Linked DNA regions of Homo sapiens. The protein of the gene in region 1 interacts with the protein of each later gene in a biochemical or structural test. Each region holds a gene or a part of one and is shown on either strand. Other genes may lie near its edges. The genes, in order: POLD2 and POLH.

Evidence for each region.
Region 2: the proteins of POLD2 (region 1) and POLH form a complex in vitro, tested with the Homo sapiens proteins (one study listed by BioGRID).

What each region holds. Positions count from the first base shown.
Region 1 is NC_000007.14:44,113,913-44,117,409, forward strand, and holds the end of POLD2 (DNA polymerase delta subunit 2), read right to left. Parts: intron 3,336-3,497; coding exon 3,221-3,335; intron 3,104-3,220; coding exon 2,905-3,103; intron 2,599-2,904; coding exon 2,518-2,598; intron 2,361-2,517; coding exon 2,203-2,360; intron 1,982-2,202; coding exon 1,854-1,981; intron 1,485-1,853; coding exon 1,383-1,484; intron 1,034-1,382; coding exon 873-1,033; 3' UTR 768-872; downstream 1-767. Other genes in the region: AEBP1 (adipocyte enhancer-binding protein 1 precursor), read left to right, coding at 1-349. UniProt on the Homo sapiens protein: Accessory component of both the DNA polymerase delta complex and the DNA polymerase zeta complex.
Region 2 is NC_000006.12:43,613,901-43,617,631, forward strand, and holds part of POLH (DNA polymerase eta), read left to right. Parts: coding exon 1-657; 3' UTR 658-3,731. UniProt on the Homo sapiens protein: DNA polymerase specifically involved in the DNA repair by translesion synthesis (TLS). Due to low processivity on both damaged and normal DNA, cooperates with the heterotetrameric (REV3L, REV7, POLD2 and POLD3) POLZ complex for complete bypass of DNA lesions.

The DNA.
Region 1 (3,497 bases):
CCTAGGCCCCCACACTGTGCCTCCCACGCTGCCCCCTGCCCCTGCCACCACCCTGAGCACTACCATAGAGCCCTGGGGCCTCATACCGCCAACCACCGCTGGCTGGGAGGAGTCGGAGACTGAGACCTACACAGAGGTGGTGACAGAGTTTGGGACCGAGGTGGAGCCCGAGTTTGGGACCAAGGTGGAGCCCGAGTTTGAGACCCAGTTGGAGCCTGAGTTTGAGACCCAGCTGGAACCCGAGTTTGAGGAAGAGGAGGAGGAGGAGAAAGAGGAGGAGATAGCCACTGGCCAGGCATTCCCCTTCACAACAGTAGAGACCTACACAGTGAACTTTGGGGACTTCTGAGATCAGCGTCCTACCAAGACCCCAGCCCAACTCAAGCTACAGCAGCAGCACTTCCCAAGCCTGCTGACCACAGTCACATCACCCATCAGCACATGGAAGGCCCCTGGTATGGACACTGAAAGGAAGGGCTGGTCCTGCCCCTTTGAGGGGGTGCAAACATGACTGGGACCTAAGAGCCAGAGGCTGTGTAGAGGCTCCTGCTCCACCTGCCAGTCTCGTAAGAGATGGGGTTGCTGCAGTGTTGGAGTAGGGGCAGAGGGAGGGAGCCAAGGTCACTCCAATAAAACAAGCTCATGGCACGGACTGCTCACATTCTGAGGTGTCAGGGATGGGGAGGAGGGAGACCGGCTGGTGGGTGCATGGGCTATGGTCACTGTGGGCACCCCTGCAGGAGTCCCATAGCCAGAGTGCCCAGGGCTCAAGGCTCGCATCAGCAAGTGCTCAGGCTTTATTTACAATGCCGACACTGCAGGGAATGAACAGCCTCCATCTGGGCCTCTCTGGTCAAAACCACTTTTTTGAGTCAGGGGCCCAGCCCCAGGCCTCCCAGGTCATCGTCCTCTGCCCCGAAGCCCGAGAAGCTGATGGGCTGGCAGGCCAGGCTGCGCAGGTTCACAAGGCAGGCGGTCTGCGTGGCACTGAAGTCAGGGACAGTCACCAACAGCACTGTCTGGTCCTCAGGACCTGCAAAGAAGTCACATAGGACCCACTGTAGGTTCCAAGTAAGTCCTGCCTCAAAGAGAAGCTGCCAGAAATAAACAGGAGTCCCCATTGGCACACAGTGGGGCAGTGACAATAGGAGACCAGAGATTAGCCTTGAGAGGCACACAGGCTGGGAGCCGTTCCAGTCCCTGCCCAGCTGGCGAGGCAGCTTGGCTCCCACAGTGAAATGGCAGCTGTGCAGAAGACCTCAGCTGTCCATCCCACAAGGGCCAGGGGGACTCCACAATGCAGGTTTTCTTCTCTGTGAACCTTGTCCCCAGGTGAGAGCAAATCAGCAAATCAGCCTGGGCCCCCAGAAGACAAAAATTACCTCGGATGATTTTGGAGCCAAAGCTGGGGGTGTTGCCACAAAAGTAGACATGCGGGCACTCTGGGAAGATGAACGGGTCAGTTTTGTAGAAGGGGTAACAACCTGGAGGAGAAGGGGCAGCTCTGAGGAGGGTTCCGCCTCAGCACTAGCACTCTGCACAGGATGTGGGGCTGCAGCCCCTCCTCCCATTGCAGGCCAGTAGGAGACCCCCAGTGTGACAATAGGGGCACCTCCAGACATTGTCACAAGACCTTGGCCCTGCTGTTGCTGCCCGTTGGGGTGGGCAGCCATTGGCCTTAGAATTAAGATTCCAGAGTAGCTTCCAGAGCAGGTGCCAAGCCTCTGAACTTCTCCTCAGACAGTTCTCAGCAATGCTGGCAAGTGCAAACCCACAGGGGGACCCTGTGCACTTCAGGGTCCTGCCAGGCCTCCTGGCCCTCTGCTCCCACCCTGTATGGCTGAGCCTGTTACCTAGAGTGTCAGGGGCTGTGGGGCTGATGTGACGGACCCGCAGGGTCCACTCCAGGATCTCCAAGTGATCCTCCATGCTGCTGTATCGGAAAATGTCACTCACGTTCTGTCCTGATGTCCCCAAAAATCTGCAAGGCAAAGCTCAGCTGACTCTTGGCTTTGGGTGCCACCCATAGTGGTCAGCCCAGAGCTCATCTGGCGCTCTTGTGGGGATGCCCCAGAGAGAAGGAACAGATGCTAGGTGGGCCTCTGCAGCCCTGCCACCTTCCTGGGCCCTCCCTCCCCTCCCTTCTTTGTGCCTCCTGAGGCAAAAGGCTGGGTCAGACTGAAGTGTGGCTGTGCCAGCTACCTGACTCCATCAATGGTGGCCTGGTAGGGGTTGGTGACCAGCTGGAGCGTGGAGTAGGCAGTGGCCAGCGGGAACATGCAGGGGTGGAGGGGCTGCTGGGGGAGCGTGTAATTGGTGGGATCAAACTCGCCTGGCATCACGTCCACGGGCACTGAGGCCTGGAAGGCACAGGGCAGGGAGAGCTCACAGGGCCCCGAAGGAGCCCCCTACACCAACTCCGGCCACTCCCCCTGCCCTCCTGCCTGCCTTCTGTTGCCCAGTGGCAGCTTTGAAGACTGCAATCCCCATCACCCCTCCAGCCCCCAGCTCGCTCACGCTCAGCTGCAGGAGGATCTCATCCAGCATCTTAACAGCCTCCACGCTGGCTGCCTGGGTTTTCTTGGTGAGGTATTTGGCCTGGAATAGAAGCCCAGAAGGCCATCAGGCCCAGGCGAGTCCCAGGCTCAGAGGAGAGTAGAGCCCCACCAGCTGGAAGATGCAGTTGTTGTCCCATAGACCCTCACTCCCTTCAAGCCTCCCACCATCCTCAGCGAGGGCCTGGGCATGAGGAGCCCCATTGCAGGAGGCCCCAGAGTCACTGCAGGGCGCTTCCCACCGACCTGCGAGACCTCACAGGGTACCCTACTCGCCCTGGGGAAGGAGGGTCTTACAGGCTTGCAGGCTCCTGGGCTGGGGCTGAATGCAGCCAGGTGGGCTCCATACCTTATTGATAGAATCCCTGCTCTGGGTGCTGTGGCTGAGGAGGTTGCCAGCGAGGATAACCCGGGAGACGTGGGCGGCGCTGCACTGCTCCCCTTCGTCCCCAAGCTGCCCCGTCACCACATCCACCAGCAGCTGGGTGCCCAGCAGGCTCTCGCCTCCACCGCCACCCAGGCCCAGGCCGGACACCAGTAGCACAAACCTGCGGGAGAAGGTGGGGTCCTCCAGGGTGCCGAGAAGGGAGGCAGCCCCTCCTAGGTGCAACTCAAAGATTCCACTGACCATGAGCTGGTTCCAGCTCCCGAGAACTGCTGCTCACCTATCTGTGTCAAGTGGGGGTGCGGGCTTCTGGGGAGCAAGGTCAGCAAAGCAATAGTCCTCCACCAGAAACTTCCCGTCGTCTCTCACGGAGCCAAACACAGCCAGGACAGTCCCTGGGGAGCAGTGGCATCAGGCCTGAGCAGGGAGCCCCAGGTGCTACCACTCCTTCCAGTCACCCCAACGGGCAAAACAAGCCAGTTCTCCACAACCACATTGGTGAATTCTCACCTAGGACTCCAGGATGCATGCCTGCTTCCTGGAGTCACTGCCCTTGG
Region 2 (3,731 bases), on another chromosome or scaffold:
GCTTCGCTTTCATCTCTTACTGCTCCCACTCAGGCTCCCATGAGCAATTCACCATCCAAGCCCTCATTACCTTTTCAAACCAGTCAAAGTACAGGAACTGAGCCCTTCTTTAAGCAGAAAAGTCTGCTTCTAAAGCAGAAACAGCTTAATAATTCTTCAGTTTCTTCCCCCCAACAAAACCCATGGTCCAACTGTAAAGCATTACCAAACTCTTTACCAACAGAGTATCCAGGGTGTGTCCCTGTTTGTGAAGGGGTGTCGAAGCTAGAAGAATCCTCTAAAGCAACTCCTGCAGAGATGGATTTGGCCCACAACAGCCAAAGCATGCACGCCTCTTCAGCTTCCAAATCTGTGCTGGAGGTGACTCAGAAAGCAACCCCAAATCCAAGTCTTCTAGCTGCTGAGGACCAAGTGCCCTGTGAGAAGTGTGGCTCCCTGGTACCGGTATGGGATATGCCAGAACACATGGACTATCATTTTGCATTGGAGTTGCAGAAATCCTTTTTGCAGCCCCACTCTTCAAACCCCCAGGTTGTTTCTGCCGTATCTCATCAAGGCAAAAGAAATCCCAAGAGCCCTTTGGCCTGCACTAATAAACGCCCCAGGCCTGAGGGCATGCAAACATTGGAATCATTTTTTAAGCCATTAACACATTAGTGCTGCCCTCAGGCTTGCCTGTAGGATTTAATATTTTTTATCTTTACAGATCTTTATCTTTAATATTTTATCTTTACAGATTTCCCTGAGAAAGGGAATTATGAAATTTTTAATACAAAAAATAATCCATTTAGGTGCTGAGTTACGGTCCCATCTCTTCACAGGCATGGATTCTAATCCCACTGCTGACAGAGATGTAAAAATTCATCCTACCAGAGTTTTTAATCTTTAGCATTTAGGGAGGCAGTGTCATAAAGTAAAAAGTGTGTGGGCCTTGGAGTCTAAGAGACGTGGTTGCAAACTTAGCTCTGGTTATTGCAATGAGGGCCTTGAACAAGTCATTTTCTTCACATTCTCATCTGTAAAATGGAGATAATACCTTACAGATTATTGCAGATTAATAACAATGTATTCAAATTATGTAACTCGGCCGGGTACAATGGCTCACGCCTGTAATCCTAACACTTTGGGAGGCCGAGGCAGACAGATCACCTGAGGTCAGGAGTTTGAGACCAGCCTGGCCAACATGGCAAAACCATCTCTACTAAAAATAGAAAAATTAGCCAGGCACGTTCCAGGCACCTGTGATCCCAGCTACTTAGAGGCTGAGGCAGAAGAATTGCTTTAACCTTGGAGGCGGAGGTTGCATTGAGCTGAGATCATGCTAGTGCGCTCCAGCCTGGGCAACAGAGCGAGACTTCATCTCAGAAAATAAAAAATAGGGGCCAGGCACAGTGGCTCATACCTGTAATGCCAGCACTTTGGGAGGCCAAGGCGGGCAGATCACGAGGTCAGGAGTTTCAGACCAATATGGTGAAACCCCATCTCTACTAAAATTACAAAAAAAATTATCCAGGCGTGGTGGTGCACGCCTGTAATCCCAGCTACTCAGGAGGCTAAGGCAGGAGAATCACTTGAACCCAGGAGGCAGAGGTTGGAGTGAGCTGAGATCGCGCCACCGCACTCCAGCCTGGGCAACAGAGCGAGACTCCATCTCAAACAAAAACAAGAACAAAAACAAACATAAAGTTGGCACAGAAAAGGGACCAAGTTTAAAAAAGGGTTTTAAATGTAATGAGACTTGCATAGTTAAAAAAAAAAAAGGGATTATTTTTATTTTTATTTTTTATTTTTGAGACGGAGTCTCCCTCTGTCGTCAGGCTAGAATGCAGTGGTGCGTTCTCAGCTCACCGCAACCTCCGTCTCCTGGGTTCAAGCAATTCTCCTGCCTCAGCCTCCCAAGTAGCTGGGACTACAGGCACGTGCTACCACACTCAGCTAATTTTTGTATTTTTAATAGAGATGAGGTTTCACCATGTTGGCCAGGATGGTCTCGATTGCTTGACCTCATGATCCGCCTGCCTCGACCTCCCAAAGTTGCTGGGATTACAGATGTTAGCCACCGATCCTGGCCCCCCCAAAAAAAGGATTTTAAGAAAAACTTCTCTTGGCCGGGCGCAGTGGCTCACGCCTGCAATCCCAGCACTTTGGGAGGCCGAGGCGGGCGGATCACAAGGTCAGGAGATCGAGACCACGGTGAAACCCCGTCTCTACTAAAAAATACAAAAAAAAATTAGCCGGGTGCGGTGGCAGGCGCCTGTAGTCCCAGCTACTCGGGAGGCTGAGGCAGGAGAATGGTGTGAACCCGGGAGGCGGAGCTTGCAGTGAGCCGAGAGCGCGCCACTGCACTCCAGCCTGGGTGACAGAGCGAGACTCCGTCTCAAAAAAAAAAAAAAAAGAAAAACTTCTCTTTAGGCTGGGTGCGGTTCCTCATGCCTATAATCCCAGCATTTAGGGAGGCTGAGGTGAGTGGATTGCAGGAGCTCAGGAGTTCGAGACCAGCCTGGGCAAGGTGGCAAAACCCCGTCTCTACTAAAAAAAATTAGCTGGGCTTGGTGGCAGGCGCCTGTAATCCCAGGTACTCGGGAGACTGAGGCAGGAGAATTGCTTGAACCTGGAAGGTGGAGGTTGCAGTGAGTTGAGATCACACCAATGCACTCCAGCCAGGGTGAGAGTGAGAGACTGTCTCAAAAAAAAAAAAAACAAAAGAAAAACTTCTCTCTAGCTCTGTGACGGGCAGTTCAGATAATACCTTCACCAGATTTACCTGTTTTCAGCTGAAGAATGTGAGATGAAGCCTTGAAACCCTAAAAGTGATATGGTAACTAGGGCAGGTCTTTCTGTACATAAAAGTGACTTAATAAACAGTGAATTTCATACAGGTAAACCCTATTATACCCTCAGTTCTAACCATTGGCCTATCTCTTGCGTTTTGTTCTAATGTAGAATTAGATTGCTACTTGACTAGTTCAGGAACTCTGTTTAGATCTGATAAGTCATAATCAAATCTTGCCAGGCGTGGTGGTTTATGCCTGTTATCCCAGCACTTTGGGAGGCCAAGGCAGGTGGACCACGTGAAGTCAGGAGTTCAAGACAAGCATGGCCAACATGGCGAAACCCTGTATCTACTAAAAATACAAAAATTAGCCGGGCATGGTGGTGGGTGCGTGTAATCCCAGCTAGTTGGGAGGCTGAGGCAGGAGAATCACTTGAACCTGGGAGGCAGAGGTTGCAGTGAGCCGAGATTTCCACTGCATTCCAGCCTGGGCGATAGAGTAACTCTGTCTCAAAAAAACCCACTAGATCATCTCTAGAACATTGCTACTCCCAAGTATGATTTGAGGAACAGCAGCCTCAGTATCACCAGGGAACTTATTAGAAATAGTCTCAGCCTCACCACTATTCCCACTTAATTGTAATCTGATATTAACAAGATTTCCCAATGTGGGTCAGGTGTGGTGGCTCATGCCTGTAATCCCACACTTTGGGAGGCCAAGGTGGGCGGATCACTTGAGGCTGGGAGTTTGAGACCAGGCTGGCCAACATGGGGAAAACCCATCTCTACAAAAAATAACAAAAATTAGGTGTGTGTGGTGACGCATGCGTGTAATCCCAGCTACTTAGGAGGCTGAGGCAGGAGAATCACTTGAATCTGGGAGGCAGAGGTTGTAGTGAGCTGAGATTGTGCCACTGCACTCCAGTCTGGGCAACAGAGTGACACTGTTTAAAAAAAA